Linked DNA regions of Homo sapiens: region 1 is linked to region 2. The links come from fine-mapping of genetic effects on gene expression. A gene starts in region 2. The other region holds a variant in brackets. All regions are shown on one strand. Distances are from middle to middle. Region 1 overlaps LOC107986256 (a long non-coding RNA gene). Region 2 holds the start of CYTL1 (cytokine like 1).

Region 1 (4,394 bases), 21 kb after region 2:
TCATCCCCATAAAATTCCTGGCATGCCAATTAAAACCATTCAGCTGTTCATTCATTCTTTCATTTTGCTGAACATTTGTTAGGTACCTATATCGTTCTGGAGGCAAGGAAGGATGACGATGACAATGATGACCTTGGCCTCAACGAGTCTGCATTTGTTTAGATATGGATTAAGCTGATGAACCAAAGGAATCCCCAAATTCAAAACATAGTCATGCATTGCTTAATGACGGGGATACATTCTGAGAAACGTGTGTTGGGCAATTTCAGCATTGTGCAAACATTGCTGCACAAATCATAGAGAATACTTACACAGCCCTAGGTGGTGAAGCCTACTATATGCCTAGGCTGCATGGTCTAGCCTACTGCTACTAGGCTACAAACCTGTGCAGCATGCTACTGTACTGAACACCATAGGCAACTGTAACACAATGCATTTGTTAACACAAAGTATTCGTGTATCTAAATCTATCTAAATACAGAAAAGGGACTATAAAAATAAGGTATAAAATAAACAATAATAAACTTGGATAGGGTACTTACAATGAATGGAGCTTGCAGGACTGGAGAGTTGCTCTGGATGAGTGAGTAGCTGGTGAGTGAATGGGAAGGCCTAGGACATGACTGTATTATACTTTAGATTTCAGAAACTCTGTACACTTTGGCTACACTCAATTTATAAAAACATATTTTATTTCTTTAATAATAAATTAGCCTTAACTTACTATAACTTTTTTTACTTTATGAACTTTTTAATATTTTTAAACTTTTTGACTCTTTTGTAATAACATAGCATAAAACACAAACATACTGTACAGCTATACAAAATTTCTTTCTTTTTTTTTTTTTTTTTTTGAGATGGGATCTTACTCTTTTGCCCAGGTTGGAGTGCAGTGGCATGATCATAGCCCACAGCAGTCTCCAACTCCTGGGCTCAAGTAATCTTCCCACTTCAGCCTTCTGAATAGCTGGGATGGCAGGCATATGCCATCATGCCCAGATATATATATATTTTTTGTATTTTTGGTAGAGATGGGGTCTTGCTATGTCGCTCAGGCTGGTCTTAAACTCCCAGACTCAAGTGATCCTTCTGTGTACCTCAGCCTTCCAAAGTGTTGGGATTACAGGCACGAGGCACCACACTTGGCCACTTTCTGTCTTTATAACCTGAATCTATAAGCGTTTTTCTACTTAAAAATTTCTTTAGAACTTTGTGTTAAAAACTAAGACACAAATACGCACATTAGCCTAGGTCTCACAGGGTCGGGATCATCAATTTCTGCTTCCACATCTTGCTCACTGGACAGTCTTAGGGGCAGTGACATGCATGGAGCTGTCATCTCCTAGGATAACAATGCCTTCTTCTAGAATCCCTCCTGGGGGACCTGCCTGAGGCTGCTTCATAACTAACTTTTTTCTGCATAAATAGGAGGCACACATTTTAAAATAATGATAAAAGTATAGTAAGTACATAAACTTTTAACATAGTCATTTATTATCATTATCAGGTGTTATGTACTGTATGTAATTCTATGTGCTAAATTCTATGATTGACAGTGCAAGGAGGTGTGTTTACACCAGTACCACTGCAAACACGTGAGGAATGCATTGTGCTACGAAGTCATGATGGCTGCCATGTCACCAGGAAATAGGAATGTTGAGCTCTGTGATAATCTTATTGTACATGTGGTCCATTGCTGCCCAAAATGTCATGATGCTGCACACGACTGTTAAGTGGTATCACCAAGACAGTGTCTATCCTCTCTTAACAGTCCAGAGGCAGTAGGCGGTCCAGGTCAGGTAGGCCATTCTGCTACATGAGGACGTCCCACACCACGGCTACTTCCTTGTGGTTGCTCTGCTACTCCCTGGAGTGCCGTCCTCCCCAGCAGGTCTTCAGGTGGTCATCACAGCCTGCAGGAGTGGTAGGAGATGCGGTCGGTGCATGTGTCATTTCTCACATCCTGTTGGCTGGAACTTAATTCCATGGCCACTCCCACCTGCAAAGGCAATTGGAACACCTAGTCCCTAGCCCAGTGGCCATGTGCTCAGCTAACACTGGAGGTGTATGTTCTATTTGTAAAAAGAAAGAAGGGGTAAGTGGATACCATGAACAAGTAGGTGTCTCTGCCACACTGCCCAACTCCTTCATTTTTTTCAGTTTACAGATGGGGAAAATGAGGCCTATAGAAGGGAAGTGACTTCTCTCAGTGCACATGATGAGGCAGTGGCAGTAGAATTTTTTTTTTTTTTTTTTTTTTTTGAGACGAAGTCTCGCTGTGTCGCCAGGCTGGAGAGCAGTGGCACGATCTTGGCTCACTGCAACCTCCGCCTCCTGGGTTCAAGCAATTCTCCTACCTCAGCTTCCCGAGTAGCTGGGATTACAGATGAGTGCCACCATGCCCAGCTAATTTTTGTATTTTTAGTAGAGACAGGGTTTCACCATGTTGGCCAAGATGGTCTCAATCGCTTGACCTCGTAATCTGCCCTCCTTGGCCTCTGAAAGTGCTGGGATTACAGGTGCCACTGC[G/A]CCCGGCCAAGCAGTAGAACTTTTAAGGCCTGTCTCCTGCCCTGTAGGCCACACACTGGCTACCTCAATATAGTCAGATGTTGCTTCACCATGGGACATGGTCTGAGATATGCGTTGTCACCACATGCCAAGATGGTACAGTTGACTACATGCCCAGGCTATGTGGTGTAGCCAATAGCTCCTAGGCTACAAACCTGTGCAGCATGAATACCCTAGGCAACTGTAACACATTGGCAAGTATTTGTGTATGCATACACAGAAAAGGTGCAGAAAAATACAGTAGTCTCATCTCATGGGGCCACTGTTGGGTGTGCGGCCCATCCTTGATGGAGACATCGTTATGTGTCATGTGACTGTGTCTAGTGCCTTTTAGTAAGTCATTGTTATCACTTCTGCTACGTATGGTTCCTGCTTTCTGAAAGAGGAGTCTCTTCTCGTTGATAGAAACGATTCTTTACATCACTGCTTCTGAGTCCTTTTCTTCAGGGAAATGGGTGGGTTCATGGAGCCTTTTAAAGAGCTGTGACAGATTTTGACTCTCTTCCTATAAAAATAACCAAATATGTGCAAGCAGACAACACACGCACACACACACAAGTTCAAGTACAGTTTCAGAGTGTTCATGACGACTCCCTTAAGCCCCTAAGAATCCCTATAAACCCAGGCAAGAATACAATGAAATACATTGCACAGATGTTGCGTTTGGCAGCTACGGAGCCTTCCTTCTGACCCAGCCTGGTTCACAGTACAGCTAGAATTCTCCACAGACACTTAATTTGAGGTCACCATGGAGCTACTATGCAAATTATTTTAATGTAAGAACAAGAAGCTCAGAATTGCTGGGCTACCAAGTTCCCAACTATGAAAATGCCTCTAGGGAAGTTTTATAATGCCAAGAAATGCAGACACTCTACATTAGTAGCAATTTATGGACCCCTATTTTGAGTGAGCACTCAACGCACACACACGCACACATAAAGACTCTTAACAATAAAAGACTGCTCTTGAAGTTATTATTTTTAAGTCATTATGGATAATTCGCTATCTGAGTGAGATGACTTTCAACAACAGAACTGGATGTGCAAACTATTTCTTATCTTGGTGTGCCACAAAACAGCCTTTATCTTTTTTTTTTTCTTTACAATGCACAATGCTGCCAAACAGAACATATTGAAATTGAGTGCAAGCAGACGGTATTTACTCTAAGCAAACCAGACTCAAGTTTTAAATAAAATAGGCTTAACATAAACGATAACAAAATCTGATATAGCAGACTCTACAAAATGGCTTGGCACAGAAGACGCCCTGCTCCAGGGAATCACATTAGCTTCTACAGCGTGATCGTGTTACATAAAATTAAATGTTACGGCTTTAGGGTTTATGGCTCCAAATGCAAGTATGGTGATTACTTGATTGTGTTCTCAGCAAGAGGAATAGCAGCCACAAGACTCTACTCATGTACATGTAAGTCAGAAAAAGAATCCCAGTTCATATTTCTGTGCCTACATTTGGGATTTGAGAAGTAACAAGAGTCATGTGCTCAACCCCTTGTTAGAGCCACAGGAGAAGTTCTAAACCATAATTTCCATGATCTCTCCATAGTCTACGTTCTGGGAAAGCCAAGCAGACTCAGCACATATAAGTAGTTGGTTTATATTTTATTGTTTTGCACATAATTAGAAGAACTTTATAAAACTTCATCCATCTGTGAGCCAGGCAAGAGGGCAAGACCTGGAGCTGACTTCATCTGGAGCACAGCTGACCCCCAAGTTCCGCCATTCTCTCTTGAGGAGACTGGATGACACTTAACATAGTGTAGGAAGTAGAAGGAATGTACTTACTTCAAAATAATTCTTCCAGACCGT
Region 2 (4,394 bases):
ATATAATAATATACTTATATAATAACTTATATAAGTATATTAGCTATATAACAGTTGTATAACTGCATGTAATTATAGACATTATATATACTTACATAAGTACGATATATGTAATAATACCTATTGTTCTATAGGCATTCTATAGCTAATATGTAGTTGTATATAGTGTATAATATAGTAATATCGAAGTGCATAAATTTGCATACTTTTATATTTCTATATTGGGCTTCCGTTTTTGCGCAGGGCTGAAGGGCAAAAGCCCTCGTGCTCTGCCCTCTCAGTAATCCCCGTGTGACCATGGGCAAGTGCCTTCCTTCAGTCCTCAGTTGTGAAATTAGAGATTTAGAATGCATAATCTTTCCACTTTCTTCCCGCTCTGTGGTTCAGAGCCTCTGAACTTTTTAAACCTTTTAAAATCAGATTCCTTTAAAAGATGATTGCTGTCTATATTCGATAACAAGAAACTTGTGGGTAAATTGTGGTGAAACTGTACAACAAAATGTTAAAACAAAAATGAACTTATTTGATAGTGTCATTAAAAAGTAAGTTGCAAAACTGCTTGTGCTGTTTGACCCAAATTTTGTTTACACACACACACACACACAACACACACGTATTTGAATACCTATATGTAGACAGAAAGCTGAAATATGATCCTCCACAATGCTACGGCAGCAGCTACCTCTAGGTGGTAGAATTACAAGCAAGATTTTTTTTCTTCTTTGTACTTTATTTTCCAACTGTTCTACAAAGTACAATACTTTTATAATTAGGGAAAAAATACATGTTATTTAACTTTTAAAAAGAAAATACCAAGAAGGTGTTAGCTAGGCTTTTGTAAACCCCAACATCTGAGAAACATTATGTTTTGTTTGAAGCATTTGCAAGTGATTAAAAGACACTTTGAAACTTTACAAAAGCTTTTAATGAAGTTTAATGCATTTTGTTTCGACGGAGAAGCAGGCAGAGGCCTGGGTTCTAGTCCCCAAAAGCCCTCCCGGGTCTTCCCCTCTCTGAGTCCCCAGATCTGCCTCTGAAGATCGTGCTCACATCAGCTGGCATCTGTTGAGTACTTGTTCCTGTAGGCTTGGCTCTGTGAGCCCTGCCTGTGTTCACACCTGCCTTTGATCGTCAAAGCCACTCTAAAGGGAGGGGTGCTACTGTCATCCCATTTTACAGACAAGAAAACTGAAAGGCAGAGGCTGAGAAATTTGCCCGGGTCCCTCAGCAGATGAGGGGCGGAGGCCAGTTCTGTGAGCCACCTCTTAGGGCACACTCCTCACTAGGCTAACAAAAGCAATACACAAGCTTCATTCCTCCGTCCTCCTTAACTCTGATGGGGAGCTGTTTTTCTCCCCATCCTCCCACTCCTTTTTTTTTCTTTTTTCTTTTTTTTTTTTTTTTTTTTTTTTACATTTTACAACAGATCCTTTGATATTTGCTAGTAAGTCACAAAAATTGTGTTGTCTTTACTTTTTCTTGTGTTTTGAAGAAAGCAAACCATTGGTATCATATTTAAAAGGAGATGAATAAAACACAAATACTCCTGAGATTTACATTTACTAGAAAAGAAAAATATCCTTTTCTCTCTCTCTCTCTTTTTTTTTTCGTGTAAAGGCAAGGGTTTAAGAACTGGGTCTGCCATGCACCCCTGTCCTGAGCGGGCGGGGGACTCACCGAGGGCTCCGAGACCTGCAGGAGGTTGAAGTCGCGGGTGATCTCCTGGCTCAGGGCCCGCATGCGGGAGTAGCAGGTCGGGGGAGTGGGCCGCGCGGCGGGGGCTCCCGCCAGGAGCAGCAGCAGCACGGGCAGAGGCCCAGGCGTCCTCATGGTGCCAGGCGCTGGTGCAGCCTCGCCGACCGCCCCTTTATGCAGGCTGGGGGTGGTCCAGGGCGGCTCCACGCCTCCACTTCCTGTGGGGCCAGCGCAGGCTGCGGTCCATCCAGGGTGGCAGAGAGGAAGCCAGCACGCCCACCGGGCAGGGTCGGGACAGGAATCCTCTCAGACACGAAAGCCCCAGGTTAAGAGGAGGGGCTGCCTGGAGGAGGGGGTGACAGAGGGTGGCTTTGCCTCCCCCACACTTTCAGCAAGAAATTTCTTTCTGCACAGGGACTTTTCCTGAAAAGGCAGGAACAGCAGATGGAGAGGGGTGGGGGATAAGAGGAGGACAGAGATGGAAGGAGGGGAGGGTCAGAGGAGAGGAGTGGGCAGTCAGGCCTGGGTTTGGATGGCACGGTTTGTCAAAATGGATATAGTGCCAGGAGGGAAAGGGACTAGCAGGGGATGACTGAGCATCCCTCCCTCCAGGCAGCCCGCAGTGGAGCAGGGATGCAGAGCTGCGGTCAGGCCACCGGTGTCCTCGTCCATCAATCGCTAACCAGGTAGGTGAGCCTTGGGCCAGGGCCCCCAGCCTCTCAGAAGCCGTGTGTGTCTCTCGGTCCGGAGGATGGGCTCACTGAGCGGCCGTATGTGTGGGGAGTGTGAGTACCCCCACCCTCTTCTACCTCAAGCTCCCAGCACAGGCCCCGAGGGAGAGCAGACCCTCAGGAAGGGTTAGTTTTCAAGAAGTGCATCTCCCTCAGGGCTAACTTCCCAAGACAGTGGCAGGTAAAGGTCTAGGCTCTCCACTTAGACGCCGTGGGTGCAAAGCAGGGTCACCGCCTTCTGGCTTTGACCTTGGGCAAGTTTCTTCAGTGTTTCCTCCATCTCCTTATCTGTGAGATGAGGCTGGTGAGAGTGGCTCACTCAAAAGGCCATAGTGAGGAATCAACAGGATATAGCATGACTGAGCAAGCCTCATGCCAGGCCCATTGTGTGTTTCCAAGTGATCGGAGCTAATAGCACTGTCTCTGTTAAATCCAGCAATTGTCTCTGTGAGGTAGGTGCCACAGAAAAGAGTCCCATTTTCCAGGTGGGAAAACTGAGGCTCAAGAGTTCCAGCAACTTGCTGGAGGTCACAAAGCTGGAGGCACATGGGTTGGGATGAGACTTCAGGCCCTGTCCTCCTGCCATTCTTCCATCCCACAGGGCAGGATGGGTGAGGAGCAGGACTCTTGCAGGCAGAGATGAGTTGGGGTCCTCAGGCTGCCCAAGATCAGGCAACAAGCAAGAAGGAACTGTCAAAAGGGAGAAGATTCTTCCTTAACACTGAACATGACTTACATACCAGCAGCCACCAGGCCAGCTGCCATTGGGAACGCTATGACCCTCACAGCCAGCCAATGAAGTGAATGGGGTTATTCCCAATTCCCAGGCGAGGAAACTGAGGGCCTCGGGGGATGTGAAGCTGGGAAGAGCAGTGGAGCCCTGGAGCTATGTCTGGACTTTCCTGCCTCCAAAGCTTCCTCCAACAAAGGAGGAAAGGGGAGCATCCTGGGCAAGCTCCACATTCCCAGAACAAAACAACCAAAGATGCAGCCCACAGGGATGGGTGAACCAGAGCATGGCATCCTGGACACAGGGCTGGACTGAGGATCAACCACAGGGATGAAGCCCGGCTCCAGCTTGTCCCCACTGTATTTGCCAGGAGAAATCCCTTCTCGACCTGGCCTCCATTCCCTGTCTGTAAACAGGATAGCATCACGCTGGGCGATGTCTGAGGTTCCTTCCAGCCCCAGTGTTTTATTTATCTAGTTTCTGGTGGTAAAAGCCCTGGGCAGGGACTGTAAGCTGTGCCTTCCTGTTTTGTAGGTGAGAATGTGTTCTCTAAACACCTTTAGCAAGATGACATAGGGACCGCGGCCTTCGGGCAGAACTGTGTGTGCTTGGAGGTGGCAAGTGGAGGCACAGATGTGTTTTCTTCTGGGTGAAGGAGTCTCCACACTCCCTCCATGATAGTGCCTGGGGCATGGGCCTCCCTGGCAGAATAGCTGGCCCCAGCTGGGGACTCTAGGTCTGCTTTAAAATGCTCTAGGGCTTCTGGATGTGCTCAAGGAATGGGCTTAAATTCAGAGCAGGGAAGAAAAACAAGCCCATGGACCAAACAAGTCCTGCACCATTAGATCAAGGAGACATTGCTGTGCTGGAAAACAGGAGTCATTTGTGAGATAAATGTACTGCTGGGAGACTTGACCTTGTTCCACCCGCAATACCGTGTGTGGTTATTCATGGGACTTCTTGGGTAAATCAGCTGAGCTCAGAGCTGCAAAGAGGCTTATAGGCCTTCCCATTGAGCATGAGAATGAATGAGTAAGTGGCTGTAGCCATAAGCTGTCACTGGTACCAACTGAGATATGGTGGATGCTGGGCCCCTGAGGAGTCACAGTCAGTGGGGAGACAAGGAATGAGGCTGTTGTGCACTGGGCCAGGTGCAAGAGAATCGCCACCTCTCACTCTACCAAGCCAGGAGTGGGATGAATGGGAAGAACACCAGAGGAGAGGGTGCCTCGTGCTGA

What was found. PIP is the estimated chance that this variant, and not a neighbour inherited with it, causes the effect. A credible set is the group of variants that fine-mapping cannot tell apart.
Region 1: its variant is the best candidate, but not a certain one, in a credible set for the expression of CYTL1 in whole blood (TOPMed, PIP 0.58).

The regions. Positions count from the first base shown.
Region 1 is chr4:5,038,151-5,042,544 of GRCh38, forward strand. It overlaps LOC107986256 (a long non-coding RNA gene), which reads right to left. Exons shown (of 3, transcript XR_007058005.1): 2 at 4,371-4,394; 3 at 1,472-1,913. It also overlaps a transcript of STK32B not described here. Among named protein-coding and RNA genes, the nearest start is that of STK32B, 11 kb to the right of the region's middle. The variant G/A (reference allele first, on the strand shown) is at 2,530.
Region 2 is chr4:5,017,616-5,022,009 of GRCh38, forward strand. It overlaps CYTL1 (cytokine like 1), which reads right to left and starts at 1,843. Exons shown (of 4, transcript NM_018659.3): 1 at 1,678-1,843. The coding sequence starts at 1,830. It also overlaps a transcript of STK32B not described here.